Linked DNA regions of Homo sapiens: region 2 is linked to region 1. The links come from fine-mapping of genetic effects on gene expression. Tissue or cell type: whole blood. Region 1 holds a variant in brackets; the other region holds the start of a gene. All regions are shown on one strand. Distances are between the middles of the regions.

Region 1 (8,320 bases):
TGCTGTGCAGAAGTTTTTTGTTTTAATTAAGTCCCATCTCTTTATCTTTGTTTTTGTTGCATTTGCTTTTGGGTTGTTGGTCATGAACTCTTTGCCTAAGCCAATGTCTAGAAGACCTTTTCCTACATTATCTTCTAGAATTTTTATGGTATCAGGTCTTAGATTCAAGTCTTTGATCCATCTTGAGTTGATTTTTGTACAAGGTGAGAGATGAGGATCATTCTACATGTGGTTTGCTAATTATCCCAGCACCATTTATTGAATTGAGTGTCCTTTCCCCACTTTATGCTTTTGTTTGCTTTGTCAAAGATCAGTTGGCTGTAAGTATTTGGCTTTATTTCTGTGTTCTCTATTCTGTTCGCATGGCCTATGGGCCTGTTTTTTACCAATACCATGCTGTTTTTGTTTTTTGTTGTTGTTGTTTGTTTGTTTGTTTGTTTGTTTTGAGTCAAGGTCTCACTCTGTCCCCCAGGCTGGGATGCAGTGGCACAATCTTGGCTCACTGCAACTTCTGCCCCCTGGGTTCAAGCAATTCTTCCACCTCAACCTCCCAAGTAGCTAGGATTACAGGCACGTGCCACCATGCCCAGCTAATTTTTGTATTTTTAGTAGAGACTGGGTTTCACTATGTTGGCCAGGCTGGTCTTGAACTCCTGACCTCAAGTGATCTGCCCACCTCAGCTTCCCAAAGTGCTGGGACTATAGGCGTGAGCCACTGTACACTGCCTACCAAGCTGTTTTGGTAACTATAGCCTTGTAGTAGAGTTTGAAGTCAGGTAATGTGATGCCTCCAGATTTGTTCTTTTTGCTTAGTCTTGATTTGGCTACATGGGCTCTTTTTTGGTTCCATATGAATTCTAGGATTGTCTTTTCTAGTTCTGTGAAGAATGATAGCGGCATTTTGATGGGAATTGCATTGAACTTACAGATTGCTTTTGGCAGTATGGCCATTTTCACGATATTGATTTTACCCATCCATGAGCATGGGATGTGTTACCATTTGTTTGTGTGGTCTATGATTTCTTTCAGCAGTGTTTTGCAGTTTTACTTGCAGAAATCTTTCCTTGGATAGGTGTATTCCTAGATACTTTATGTTTTTGAAGCTGTTTTAAAAGGGATTGAGTTCAGCCAGGCATGGTGGCTCACACTTGTAATCCCAGCACTTTGGGAGGCTGAGGCAGGCAGATCACAAGGTCAGGAGTTCAAGACCAGCCTGGCCAATATGGTGAAACCCCGTCTCTACTAAAAATACAAAAAAAAAATAGCTGGGCATGGTGGTGGGTGCCTGTAGTCTAGCTACTCAGGAGGCTGAGGCAGGAGAATAGCTTGAACTCGGGAGGCAAAGGTTGCAGTGAGCCAAGATCACGCCACTGCACTCCAGCCTGGGTGACAGAGTGAGACTCTGTTTCAAAAAAAAAAAAGGCAGGGGTTGAGTTCTTGATTTGATTCCCAGCTAGGTTGCTGTTGGTGTGTAGCAGTGCTACTGATTTGTGTACATTGATTTTGTAACCTGGGACTTTATTGAATTCATTTATCAAATCTAGGAGTCTAGGTGGTTTTAGTGCCAAATTCTACCAAATCTTTAAAGAGAAACTAACACCAATTCTCCTCAAATTATTTCAAAAAATTCAAGAGGAAAGAATTCTCCCTAGCTCATTCTGTGAGGCCAGCATTACCTGATACCAAAACTAGACAAGGACACAACAAAAAAGAAACTACAGGCCAATATTTCCGATGAATATAGATGCAAAAATTCTCAACAAAATATTAGCAAACTGAATCCTACAGAACATCAAAAGATCATACACCATGATCAGGTAAGATTCATCCCAGGGATCTAAGAATGCTTCAACATATGCAAATCATTAAACATGATACATCACATCAACAAAATGAAGGACAAAAACCATATGATCATCTCAAATACGCAGAAAAATAATTTGATAAAATTCAACATCCCTTCATGATAAAAACTCTCAACAAACCAGGCATAGAAGGAACGTACCTCAAAACAATAAAGGCCATATGTGACAAATCCATGCTAATATCATATTGAATGGTAGAAAGCTGAAAGCCTTTCCTCTAAGAACTGGGACAAGATAAGTATGCCCACTTTCACCAAGTGGCTTCAAATATCACATGTTCTCACTCATATGTGAGTGCTAAATACTTGATCTTGAGAAGGTAGAAAGTAGAAGATAGATACCAGAGGCTGGGAACAGAATGTGGGTGGAAGAAGTGATGAAGAGAGGTTGGTTAATGGCTACAAAAATACAGTCAGATAGAAGATATAAGTCCTAATGTTCAATAGCAGAGTAGGGTGACTATAGTTGCAACATATACTTCAAAGTAGCTAGAAGAGAGTACTTGAATTGTTCCCAATGCAGAGATAATACTGAAGGTGATACATAACCCAAATACCCTGACTTTATCATTATGCATTCTATGCATACAACAAAATATCATATTTATGCCATAAATATGTAAAGTATTATATATCAATAAAAATAAATAATTTTTAAATGCATTTTTATAAAAAAAATCTCTTTTGTCTTTGAATCTGCTCTTCAACTTTGACTTCAACTTCTGCCTTTATCTGAATACCTACTTCCACATCCATTTCTGGCATTACTGAACACCTGCATGACCAATGATCATATTATCTTAAAGATTCCTTGATAGCCAATAACCTAACAACATCAATAATACAAACGTGTGCCATTCAGATGCATTGCTAACCCTCATAGCATTCTGTGTGAAGAGTAAATTCTGCAAGTGCAGTAAATTCTGCAAATACAGTAAAAGGTTATCTCAGCTAGGCCTGGTGTGTTCAAACCCTGCACATTCCAAACAAAGGACTGGCCTTTGATCAGCTCCTGGGAGATAACCTCTGAGCCTTTTGGAATAGCCTTCTTAATGAATGTCTTTGTAAACCCAAGACCTTGAGCCACACCAGATAATTTATGCGAACAATGTGATTTATGTTGAATTCATGTTTCTGTTTATCTGTTTCTGGGCCACAATGCATCAGTTTGACCTCTGGGGGAGCTGGCAACTGAGTAGCTTAGGTCAGTCAAGTGGATGTTCCATGCCCATGCAACTGACCCCCAATAAAAACTCTGGACAACAAGGCTCCAATGAGCCAAGCTGTTTGGCAGTACTTCAAAAATGATGTCACACATTAGACTTAAAAGATCATCATGGTGGATGGGAGGCAGGACTAGCTTGCTGCATGCGGAAGCTTGCATTGTGAATTTTAGCTCCAGAATGACTGCAGGAATAAATCAGGAAACCTGTGAGGATCTACAGATCATCCAAAGGAAGCAGACTGTTCCTGCAGGACCTGGGAGACATCCCAAATACTGTGACTGCCCAAACTGCAGAAGTGAGAAAGGGAGATCCTCCATCCCAGAACACACACCCCTACTGGGGAAACTGAAGGTCTAGTTTGCAGAAGATTCTGACCTTACCTGTAGCTGAGTCAATTTAGAGAGCTGAGCGAAACACAAGGGTAGAAGAAGCACCAGGAAAGGCCCTGGAAGTTGACTGGGTCCTGAAGCAGGCTATTCCTGCCTGGCATCACAGGGATCCTTTGGGAGGGAAGCCAGAGGTGTGGGGAAAATGCCACAGGGAGAAGGAAACCTCCAGCTGAACTTTGTAACAATTTGAAACACTCCAGAAGCCTCCTGGCCAGAACTCAGGGGAAGGCATGAATCTGGCCTGCAGACTCCACAGGCAGAGGAAGAACTAAAGCCCTATTCTTTTGTAGCTGGGAGGTAGGTAGTCTGGGGTAGGTCCTCAGCCCTGCTTGCCCACTGCCTGGAAACAGAGGCGGTGCTTTTAGGTGGGGCACGGTGGGAGTGAGACCAGCCCTACAGATTGCATGGGAGCTGGGTGAGGTCTGTGACTGCCAGCTTTCCCCAACTTCCCTGACAACCTGCATGACTCAGCAGAGGCAGCCATAATCCTCCTAGGTACATAACTCCATTCAACTGGTAACCTCGCCCCCATCCCCCACAGCAGCCACAACTGACCTGCCCAAGGAGTCTGAGCTCAGACACACCTAGCCCTGCCCCCACCTGATGGTCCTTCCCTATCCACCCAGGTATCTGAACACAAAGGGCATGTACTTTTGGGAGTTCTAGGGCCCTGCCCACCACTGGTTCCTCTTCATACTACCACAGCTGATGCTCTCTGGAAAGCACCACCTCCTGGCAGGAGGCCAACCAGCACCAAAATAGAGCGTTAAACCAAGAAATCTAAGAACCCTCACAGAGTCCATTTCACCTACCTGCCACCTCCACCAGAAAAGGTGCTTGTATCCATGGGATGTGACCCATAGACAGGTCACATCACAGGACTCTGTGCAAACAACCCCCAGCACCAGCCTGGAGCCTGATAGATTTGCTGGGTGGCTAGACCCAGAAGAGAGATAA[C/T]AATCACTACAGCTCACCTCTCAGGAAGCCACATCCATAGGAAAAGGGGAGAGTACTACATCAAGGGAACACCCCATGGGACAAAAGAATCTGAACAACAGCCTTCAGCCCTAGACCTTCCCTCTGACAGAGCCTACCCCAATGAGAAGGAATTAGAAAACCAATTCTGGTAGTATGACAAAACAAGGCTCTTTTGCACCCCCAGAAAATCACACTACCTCACCAGTAATGGATCCAAACCAAGAAGAAATCCCCAATTTACCTGAAAAAGAATTCAAGAGGTTAGTTATTAAGCTAATCAGGGAGGCAACAGAGAAAGGCAAAAACCCAATGCAAGGAAATAAAAAGAAAAAAATACAAGAAGTGAAGGGAGAAATATTCAAGGAAATAAATAGCATAAATAAAAAAACAATTAAAACTGCAGGAAACGCTGGACACATAGAATTGCAAAATGCTCTGGAAAGTCTCAGCAATAGATTGAACAAGTAGAAGAAAGAAATTCAGAGCTGAAGGCAAAGTCTTTGAATTAACTCAATCCAACAAAGACAAAGAAAAAAGAATAAGAAAACATAAACAAAGCCTCCAAGAAGTCTGGAATTATGTTAAATGACTGAACCTAAGAATAATTGGCATCGCTGAGGAAGAAGAGAAATCTAAAGTTTGGAAAACATACTTGGAGTAATAATCAAGGAAAACTTCCCCAGCCTTGCCAGAGGCCTAGACATCCAAATACAAGAAGTACAAAGAACACCTAGGACATTCATCACAAAAAGATCTTCACCTAGGCACATTGTCGTCAGGTTATCCAAAGTTAAGACAAAGGAAAGAATCTTAAGGGCTGTGAGACAAAAGCACCAGGTAACCTATAAAGGAAAACCTATCAGATCAACAGCAGATTCCTCAGCAGAAACCCTACATGCTAGAAGGGATTGGGGCCCTGTTTTCAGCCTCTTCAAACAAAACAATTATCAGCCAAGAATTTTTTATCCAGTAAAACTAAACATTATATGTAAAGGAAGATACAGTCTTTTCCAGAAAAACAAATGCTGAGCGAATTCGCCACTACCAAGCCACCACTACAAGAACTGCTAAAAGGAGCTCTAAATCTTGAGACAAATCCTGGAAATACACCAAAACAGAGCATCTTTAAAGTATACATCTCACAGGACCTATAAAACAAAAACACAAGTTAAAAAGCAAAAAAAAAAAACCAAGGTACACAGTCAAGAAATAGCAAGATGAATGGAATGGTACCTCACATCTCAATACTAACATTGAATGTAAATGGCCTAAATGCCCCACTTAAAAGATACAGAACTGCAGAATGAATAAGAATTCACCAACCAACTATCTGCTGCCTTGAAGAGACTCATCTAACACACAAGGATTCATATAAACTTAAAGGGGTGGAAAAGGGCATTTCATGTGAATGGACACCAAAAGCAAGCAGGAGTAGCTATTATTATGTCAGACAAAACAAACTTTAAAGCAAGAGCAGTTAAAAAAAACAAAGGGGACATTATGTAATGGTAAAAGGTCTTGTCCAACAGGAAAATATCACAATCCTAAACATATAAGCACCTAACATTGCAGCTCATAAATTTATAAAACAATTACTAATAGACCTAAGAAATGAAAAAGACAGCAACACAATAATAGTGGGGGACTTCATCAATACTCCACTGACAGCACTGGACAGGTCATCAAGACAGAAAGTCAACAAAGAAATAATGGATTTAAACTATACCTTGAAACAAATAAACTTAATAGATATATACAGAACATTCCATCCAACAACTGCAGAATACACATTCTATTCAACAGTGCATGTAACTTTCTCCAAGATAGACCATAAGATAGGCCACGAAATGAGCCTCAATAAATTTAAGAAAATTTAAATTATATCGAGCACTTTCTTAGACCACAGTGAAATAAAACTGGAAATCACCTCCCAAAGGAACCTTTGAAACTATGCAAATACATGGAAACTAAATAACCTGCTCCTGAATGATCATCAGGTCAAAAACAAAATCAAGATGTAAATTTAAAAATTATTCGAACTGAATGACAATAGTGACATAACCTATCAATCCTCTGCAATACAACAAAGACAGTGCTAAGAAGAAAGTACATAGCCCTAAATACCTACATTAAAAAGACTGAAAAAGTGCAAAATGACACTCTGAGGTTATACCTCAAGGAACAAGAGAAACAAGAACAAACCAAACCCAAACCCAGCAGAAGAAAGGAAATAACCAAGATAAGAGCAAAACTAAATGAAATTGAAACCAAAAAAATACAAAAGATAAATAAAACAAAAAGCTGGTTCTTTGAAAAGACAAATAAAATTGATAGACCAATAGCAAGATTAATAAAGAAAAGAAGAGAGAAATCCAAATAGCATCAATAAGAAACAAAACAGCAGATGTTACAACTGACACCACAGAAATACAAAAGGTTATTTAAGGCTACTATGAACACCTTTATGCACATAAACTAGAAAACCTAGAAGATATGGATAAATTTCTGAAAAAATACAACCCTCCTAGCTTAAATCAGGAAGAATTAGATACCCTGGACAGACCAAGAATAAGCAGCAAGATTGAAATGGTAATTTAAAATCACCAACAGAGAAAAGTCCAGGACCAGACAGATTCATAACAGAATTCTACCAGATATTCAAAGACCAATTGGTACCAATTCTTTTGACACTATTCCACAAGTTAGAAAAAGAGGGAACCTGCCTTAATTCATTCTATGAAGCTAGCATCAACCTAATACCAAAACCAGGAAATGACATAACCAAAAAAGAAAACTACAGACCGATATCCTTGATGAACATAAATGTTAAAATCCTTAACAAAATATTAGCTAATAGAATCCAACAACATATCAAAAAGATAATCCGCCATGATCAAGTGGCTTCATACCAGGGATGCAGGGATGATTTAACATATGCAAGTCAATAAATGTGATATACCACATAAGTAGAATTAAAAACAAAAATCACATGATCATCTCAATAGATGCAGAAAAGGCATTTGACAAAATCCAGCATCCCTTTTAATTAAAACTCTGAGCAAAATCAGCATACAAGGGGCATACCTCAATGTAATAAAAGCCATCTATGACAAACCCACAGCCAACATAATAGTGAATGGGAAAAGTTGAAAGCATTCCCTCTGAGAACTGGAACAAGACAAGGATGCCCACTCTCACTATTCCTCTTCACCATAGTACTGTAAGTCCTAGCCAGAGCAATCAGACAACAGAAAGAAATAAAGGGCATCCAATTAGTAAAGAGGAATTCAAACTGTCACTGTTCGCTGATGATATGATTGTTTACCTCGAAAACCCTAAAGACTCCTCCAGAAGGCTCCAAGAACTGATACAATAATTCAGCAAAATTTCTGGATACAAGATTAATGTACACTAATCAGTAGCTCTTCTATACACCAACAACGACCAAGCAGAGAATCAAATCAAGAACTCAACCCCTTTTACAATAGCTGCAAAAAAAATTAAAACAAATACTTAGTAATATACCTAACCGAGGAGTTGAAAGACCTCTACGAGGAAAACTACAAAACACTGCCGAAAGAAATCATAGATGACACAAACAAATGGAAACACAAACCATGCTCATGGATGGGTAGAATCAGTATTGTGAAAATGACCATACTACCAAAAGCAATCTACAAATTCAATGCAATCCCCATCAAAATGCCACCATCATTCTTCACAGAATTAGAAAAAAAAATTCTAAAATTCATATGAAACCAAAAAAGAGCCCACATAGCCAAAGCAAGACTAAGCAAAAAGAACAAATCTGGAGGCATCACACTGCCTGATTGCAAATTATATTATAAGGCCATAGTCACAAA
Region 2 (8,320 bases), 240 kb before region 1:
AGTGGCTGTAGTGGAAGAAAACTTTTCCAAAATAATTTCCTTGGGATGTTCCAAGGAAGGAAGGAAAGATAAGGGAAGGGTAGGGAAGGAGAGGGGAGGGGAGGGGAGGGCAGGGGAATCCATAGGCCAATACATTTGGGAAATACAAAACTTTCTCCTTCTAGGAGAGTCACAATTCATGTTAATCTATTAAAAGCCTCAAGAAGTTATGCCTTAAAGCAGGGGGCCTCAACCCCTGGACCACAGACCAGCACAGTTTGGTTGCCTGTTAGGAACCTGGCCTCACAGCAGGAAGGTGAGTGGCAGGCATGATCATCTGAAGTGGAACAGTTTCATCGCCAAACCCTCCCCCTCACCCTGCTCCCATGGAAAAATTGTCTTCCATGAAACCAGTCCTTGATGCCAAAAGGTTGGGGACCACTGCCTTAAAGGAACATGTTTGTCTTTTGTTAACCCTGTATTTCCCCAAATTACTTGATCATACTAGAAAATAAGCCCTCTAAGGGACAGTATTTGATACTGTTTCTCCCCCTTGTATATCTTCCTCTCCTTCTATACTCCCCTCAGTCCCTTCCCCAGATCTATCTCATTTCTGACACTCAGAAGGTATCCAATAAAATACATTTTGGGTAGAATTACAATCCAGATCACTGAAAGAACACCCTCTGCAGAGGCCTGAGATGGATTGCTCTTCTGTTTTGCTGGACTCTTACAGAGGGAAGATACAGCCAGACAGAAGGAAGAACTTTCTGGCATTGAGTGGAGTAATTTAGTAGAATGGGTAGGTTAGAAAAGTTAGAGAATCCCATTTGTTTGTATCCTTAACAACCAGAACATAGAAGCAGAGAAAAGAACAAGATGACCTTGGTGGACACTTTTCTGCCTGGAGAAAGTTCAGAAAATCCTTGGTGAGTTAAATCACTGCTCTCTCCCCTACAATTCTATCCACTCTCTCTTTCTACTTTTGAGCCTTTGGTACAGGAAGGAGACAAAGTCACTCAAATTCCCACATCAGCAATTTGGAGGAACAGACTCTTAGCAAAAAAAACAAAACAGCCAAACAAAACAAAACAAAAATGGCATTTGCAAACCCCAGGATCTGAGAAAGAAGAAGGTTGAGAGCTGAAATGGAGGCAGATGATTTGCATCTGGGCCTGGGCAGAGGGGCCCAGCTGCTCGGCCCAGAGCAGTGGCTCTGAGCAGCAGCTTCTCTGTCTTGGGACAGCCTCTATGGACAGCTGTCCTGGCTCTGCCCCAGGTCTGGGCAACCTGCCAGCTCAGCCTGTAGTTCTGCAGCTCCAGAACTTATACTCACTACAGCCCATCTGTTTGATGGGCTCATCAGTGTTCAGAAATTGTTCTTATTTATCAGTGTTATCAGGTTACATGTCTAGAGGATAATATTATTCAAAAGCAATATTTACTTGGCTTTTCAATGGAAAAGAGTCTTTCAAAATACTTTTTCTAATACCTTTATAATAATTTCTTACCAAATATCACTTAATATTTTCATTTTCCATAATAAACTACATGCAGTTATAAAAGGGTAGAGAAAAATAGTCTGTACAGGTGTTACTGACATCTAAAGCCAAGAGGATCTTAGAAAATATTTCTCTGTCAGAAGGTGATACCGATATCCAGTGAAATTAAGTAACTAGTATAGTTTTAAACTCAGATTGCTCTTTTACCCCTAGTTCAGGGTTTTTACTAAATTCTATAAAACACAAGAGAGGGAGCCATGGAATGACAAATAGGCCCTATCATGAGGCACCAAACTGCTGAATCACATAGGCAGTAGAGAGCTAATTCATTATCTCAGTTAGCATAAGGGTTTTTATTTTTAACCAAGGGAAAAAAAATGAACAAGCTCACAAAAAAACCTTCAGAAACCCTGAACTACTGCGTCTCGTATAAAAAGAACAAGTCATTTTGTTTTCATGAAGCACCTGGAATATATGCTCAGAGAAGTTCATGGTGCCAAAGATATAGAGACAATGTTTTCAAAGGGTGGGAAGGGCAGGTGAGAGGGAAAAAAGAGAAAGGGGAAGGAGGAAAGGAGGGAAGGAAGGAAAGAAGGAAGGAAGGAAGGAAGGAAGGAAAAGGAATGGAAGGAAGGAAGGGAAAGAAGGAAAGAAACAAAGAAAGAAAGAGAAAGACTATACAACTGAGAAAGAAGATAAACAGAGGAATACCCTGGGCCGCCTCCTCCTCCTAGGAATCATATAGTCTTCATCTTTGTCTTTCAGAAGCTGCTTGTAGAAGAGAAAAATATTTCTTTCAAAAAATAAATCACAAATACTATAAACATATAAACCTACATATGTACTCATAAAAATTAAGAATAAATATAAATAAAAACCAAAAATTAATACATCTTTTTTATTAACAAAAAAATCTCTAGCAATTGCTTGTGAAATGGTATCTTTAATGAGTGAGGTAATTTTGACAGATAGACATAGTATTCTGCAGAAACTGAAAATATTATATTTCATGCAAATCAAAACCACAATGAGATACCATCTCACACTACTCAGAATGGCTATTATTAAAAAGTCAAAAAATAAAAGATGTTGGCGAGGTGGCAGAGGAAAAGGAATGTTTATACACTGTTGGCGGGAGTGTAAATTAGTTCAACCCTTGTGGAAGACAATGTGGCGATTGCTCAAAGACCTAAAAACAGAAATATCTTTAGACTCAGCAATCCCATTACCGAGTATATACCTGGAGGAATATAAATCATTCTGTTATAAAGACACGAGCACATGTATGTTTGCTGCAACACTATTCACAATAGCAAAGACATGGAATCAACCCAAATGCCCAGTGATGATAGACTGGATAAAGAAAATGTGGCACATATACACCATGGAATACTATGCAGCCATAAAAAAGAATGAGATCATGTCCTTTGCAGCAACATGGATGGAGCTGGAGGCCATTATCCTTAGCAAACTAACACAGGAACAGAAAACCAAATACCGCATGTTCTCACCTATAAGTGGGAGCTAAATGATGAGAACACATGGACACATAGAGGGAAACAACACACACTGGGGCCTATGGGAGGGTAGAGGGTGGAAGGAGGGAGAGGATCAAAACAAATACCTATTGGGTACTAGGCTTAATACCTGGGTGATGAAATAATCTGTACAACAAACCCCTATGACAGGAGTTTACCTATGTAACAAACTTGCACATGTACCACTGAACTTAAAATAAAAGTTAAAAGAAACTATTATATTTCAAGAGTCTTAAAAATAGCTGCAATTTCTTGAGCATTTGCTGTAAGGTAGGCGCTGGACTGAATACTCTGTATTCCTTTATTCTTATAGCTCTACAACCACTCCTGTAAGGTTATCCCCATTTAGCAGCTAACAAACTGAGACCTAGAGATGTTAACGTATCCAAGACTACAGAGCTACTTGATGCCAGAGCTTCACTCTAAAGCCTGCTCTCCTAACCATCAAACTATCAATGTTAACAAAATGTTGACATTTGGGCCAGGACAATTATTCCTTATACTGAAGAGTCCCATCCCTTCAAAAGCACTTATCATCATTGGCCCTCAGGTACTAAATACCAGTATCAGCTTCCCATTTCTTTGAAAATTAAATCTCTCTCACATATTTCCAAACTCCCTACCGAAGTTATATTCTCCATTTCCCAAACATATTGGAAAACAACTGTTAAGGAAAACATTGAATTCTAGAAACTTAGGATTTAAAAGAGTTGTTAAGTTTCCATTAGTTCAGCTTTTATAGTTAATTTGTACGGAAAAGAATAGTAAATAAAGAGAATTAGGGCGTGTTGGATTTAGCATTTTACTTGTTGACTGTGAAGCTAATTCTCAGAGAAGCACATATTTAGCATCTACTATGTCCTGAGAAAATATGTTAGATATTTTCATGCCTACGTAAAAGGAATAGCGTGGGAGAAGGGTTGAGTGAGAAACAGAGAGAATTGTTATTTTCCTCACATTATACTTGAAGAAAATAATGTTTTGAGAACTTAATTTGCCAAGCAAGAATTTTATTTAGGATTATTTCTACCATATTATAGCTATACTATGGATACTCAATGGAGTTGTCCCATTGATGATTGGAAATGGAATTTAGAAACATGGTAAAAAAAAAATCTAACTATACCTATAGCCAAAAAATCAGAAAGAAGGTAATGAACATGTGAAAATCAGTCACAATTAACACATTAGAGGAGTGCCTTGTAGAATAAATATTGTGATATACATTCATAAATAAATGATTTAAAGAAGGAAACAGTAGAATCAGGAGAGAGACAGAAAGAAGATATCCAAAATGCAGCAGCATCCTACGGAGAAGAGTGTTCAGAGATACTGGAGAAGCGAGGAGGGATAGTTAGCAGTGCTGGATGCTCCCGGTGGGTGAAAGTGATTGAGGCCTGGGAGAAACCTTTTAGAGTTCAACAAGCCTTTTCCAAACTGAAAACCAATAAACTGAAGACATCTTCAGGGTGTAACCGATTTTAAAAGTTCAGCTTTGAAAACGTTGGGGAAAGCAGTCATTTACTACAAAAACAAAAACTTTGAAGTGGTTTGAACATAAAACAAAGTTAAGAAACTAACAGAAAAAAAAAGTAGTCAGTATTCAAAAACAAGCTTCGGGGGAATTTACCAGAGTATGAAAGTTATCAACACAGAGCGACTGGCTCAGAGCCCTCTCAAGTGTGTGATACGACTGGAAACTTCTTCTCTGAGATAAACGCCAGATCATTTATGAGAGAGAGCTTTCCCATTTTCAGACAGCTCTCCTGAGGACAGAAGGATTTATCTGCAGCAGTGGAATTCTAGTTATATGGTAGGAAGACTCCTGCACACACCTCTTTAAATGGACTGTACCTTTGCCTTAATAGGAAAAGATCTCCTGTTTTTCTGGAAAGACAGAGGCAGCTCTGGGGCAGGAAGGTCTTCCTAGTTGTGAGCACCGTGTCTACGGATGGTTTGTCCTTCGCTCAGTCTCCTGAGCCGGAGCAAAGGATGTGGCTGGGCCAGGAGGCGGGGACTGCATCTACATGTGTGGATGTGTGTGTGTGTGGTGTGTTCTCATTTCCGCTTCCCCTTTTGAGCAGGCAACAGCAGTTGAATGAGTTCAGGGAGAAAGGCATAATCTACAACATGATACTTTCTCACTTGCTTCACCTCTGTGCCCACACCTGTGAAGGCCTCGGCCCAGCTTCGACAACTGCTTTGCCTCAAACTCAGCTTTCTACCAGCAGACAGGTAAGCACAGCCTTTATCTCAGTTTCAAGGCTGTACTGATTTAGGGTGATGCTAGGAGAAAGAAGGAAACATGTCAGAGAAAAATCAGGCTGTCAAGTCAAGGGAAAATCAAGAGAAAATCTCCCACCACTCTTACTTCAACCTTAAAAGCATCCATCATTATGCCTAGGAGAACGATGCTGGGTGCCCTTTTGCTTTCGTTTGTTTGTTTTCTCTTTATTATCAGAGAGGTAATCTTTCTAGATTCTCAAAACTTGGGTCTCTTTGATGACTTGAATAACATTTTAGGAATTTTTTTTCACCTTTCTCACCTGCAAAGTTCTTCTCTGTGTCTTGCTGAACTCATTGTTGCTGCAATTTCCATCTGATTATAACATCGAAAAGTTCTCAAGGAAGAAGTTTCCCGGTTTCATTTCAGGCCCTACTCTAGTGTCCATAGCTCCAACCATTGAGAGTACCTGGCTGAAATCAACTTTGCTTTCTGTGGGTATGACCTCTTTCTTCAGAAGCTGTAGAAGAAACTTGTTGAGATAAACTGCAGCAAGATATATTGAGGTCAGCTACGAGGGAGGATGTACACACTTGAGTGAGGTAAGGTCAAATTCACCGGGAGGCTCAAGATAGATGGATAGCCACCATCAGGACCAGATTTCAGGGTTCACATCTCAAAGATAGATAGATGGATGTGTTGCCTTCTCAGTGACCTACATAATATTGGGGGCTTCATGCTCCTCCAACACCCCTTGCCCCAGTGGTAGCAGGCAGAGCATATCACCACCTACATGAGTTTTGGGGTAGATGGAGGAGTGGAAAGATCCTCCACCCTGGGGTTTTCCCATGCCCCTTCTGTGCCACTAAGCTCACCAGTGGGTGGAAGAAAAAGGGTGGGTCCCCAGGGCAGGGCAAGGACAAGAAAGGAGAGTTCCACAGAAGTGATTTGACAAGACTGTGAGCATTTACAGGAGATATCCAGGGAAGTACTAGTGACTCTGTATACCACAAATGGTCCTGAGTAGAGAGGTAAGGAGACTTTCTAGATGGTGCAGGGCAGTACCTAGGATGGGAGGTTGGAGGTAGGAACCTTCAACTTGTGTGTCCAAGTATCAGACTCAATAGTTGTTCAGCTGAGTGATTAGAGATAAAGATCTCACAATATTGTCTTGCAGCATGAAGTGTTAGTAGGAAGAAGGGAAGTCAGGTTTATTGTCTGTCTCTACTTGGACTATTATCAGAAATAACAAGCTGAAGATATAGCAGAAGGGATAGAAAGCAATTTAACATCTGAGTTATTCGCATGCACCCCAGGGTGTTTAGAAACCATTTACAACCACGCTACCAACATGTTCTCATAACTCTTGGGTTTTTTGAAAATTAAGATGGAACCCTGCGATTCAGCATTATGTAGTGAACATGAAGCCCCAACCGTCATTTTCAGTTCAATGTTTGATTTGGATTCTAGTATGGAGGTCTCGTCTCAGCCAATGCTGTGACTTACAAGATTCCTTCTGGGCTACAGTAAGGGGAAAAGATCACACGTTTATTTCCACCTGCAAACTGACAACTGTTCTCTTTTCCACCTAAGGCACAAGACCAAAGTGGATATTCCAGTACCCACAGTACTGTGTGCCTTACAACACCCAGGCCTGATGCAGAATGGCCTAAACACAGATTTCAGATTGAGAAAAGAGTTCAGTCAAATAAGTAGAGGGACGAGGAGAAGAGAGTGTGTAGATATTGAAAAAGAAAAGCAGGAAAGAAGAAAAATGAATATATGCAGGACAGAGCTTATTACCAAGGAAATGAAACTGAAGAATTAAAGATACGAATTCACAGAGCTAACACAATGGTTGAGAAATCTGCTCATTCTCCCTACTTTCTCTTGATGAAGCCATCTATAAATCAGCTCAGATAAACTGCTGTTTCTTATTCTTGATGTCTTTATTGCCCATTCAAATGAAGATATTTGATGTCTCCCTACATTGAGAACAAGCGATTAATTTTTTTTCCAAATCCACAACTTTAATATTTCCTGTAGCAATTATACAAGCCTTTCTTAAAATTCATATCCTAAAAGTGGAAGTAAGGAAGAAAGGGAAGGAGAGGAAAAAGGTCTTAGATGGTCTTCTTTCAGTATTTATTCAGCTACGCTTATTTGTGGGAGAAAGAGTATGAAAAGGGAGGGGAATAGGAGTTCTATTGACTAATGGGCATTTTTTCTTTCTGTTATTTACCAAGTAACATCTCTCCTTTTCCCCGAACAGATTGAACTGCTCCTTAGACAATAGAAGTCTCAGAATGCTCAAATATTATACTCAGGGAAATTCTTGTTCTGATGATCTTCCAACCTGAGTGACATGGAAGAGGGTTAGGAGCTAGAAGACAGTTCTATGAAGGAATGTGAGAATTTGTTGCAGATTGGGGTATGTCAAATGGGGGACAATCCACCTGGGTTGAGGTGGAGTTTGTCCAGTTCATGAACAGAGAAATGTTAGCTACTCTGGGATTTCCCGCAGCTCTGCGATGGTAATGATGTATATCTTGGCTGTGGATGCAGAAGGTCTTATGGGCCACATCATGGAAACCCCATTTCCTTCTTCTCTCCTCCCACACTGGTTCTCACTCTCAGTCTCAACTCACAGGCACTGCTTGGGGCATAGGTACAAAACAGACAGAAGAGAAGAGAGGTCTGTCTCATACATGTCCCCTAGAGCACTAAAGGCAAACCTGGGACTGGGCCTTGGAAACCAAGTGTGGCAGGAGGAAGGCTGTATGATATAAAGGAAGAAAGCATGCATCTGGAACTCAGAACTTGTGAGTTTGGTTCCCATTTAAAACCACTAATATTCTTTGTGACTCCAGGCAAGCCTGCTTCTCCCTCCCTCTCTCTCTCTCTTTCTCCCTCCTTTCTCTCTCTCTTCAGTTTCCTCAACTACAAAATGAGTGAACAGGATTAGGTAATCTCTCTGGTCCCTTTGGGAATTAGGTAAGAAAGAAAGACTTTTTTTTTTTAATATATTATACTTTAAGTTCTAGGGTACACGTGCACAATGTGCAGGTTTGTTACAT

The links. PIP is the estimated chance that this variant, and not a neighbour inherited with it, causes the effect.
Region 2: it holds the start of TESPA1, and the variant in region 1 is fine-mapped to the expression of TESPA1 in whole blood (TOPMed, PIP above 0.99).

Annotation. Positions count from the first base shown.
Region 1 is chr12:54,739,371-54,747,690 of GRCh38, reverse strand. No RefSeq gene overlaps it. Among named protein-coding and RNA genes, the nearest start is that of DCD, 95 kb to the right of the region's middle. The variant C/T (reference allele first, on the strand shown) is at 4,437.
Region 2 is chr12:54,981,519-54,989,838 of GRCh38, reverse strand. It overlaps TESPA1 (thymocyte expressed, positive selection associated 1), which reads left to right and starts at 5,077. Exons shown (of 11, transcript NM_001136030.3): 1 at 5,077-5,254. It overlaps LOC107984515 (a long non-coding RNA gene), which reads right to left and starts at 4,988. Exons shown (of 2, transcript XR_001749161.2): 1 at 4,874-4,988.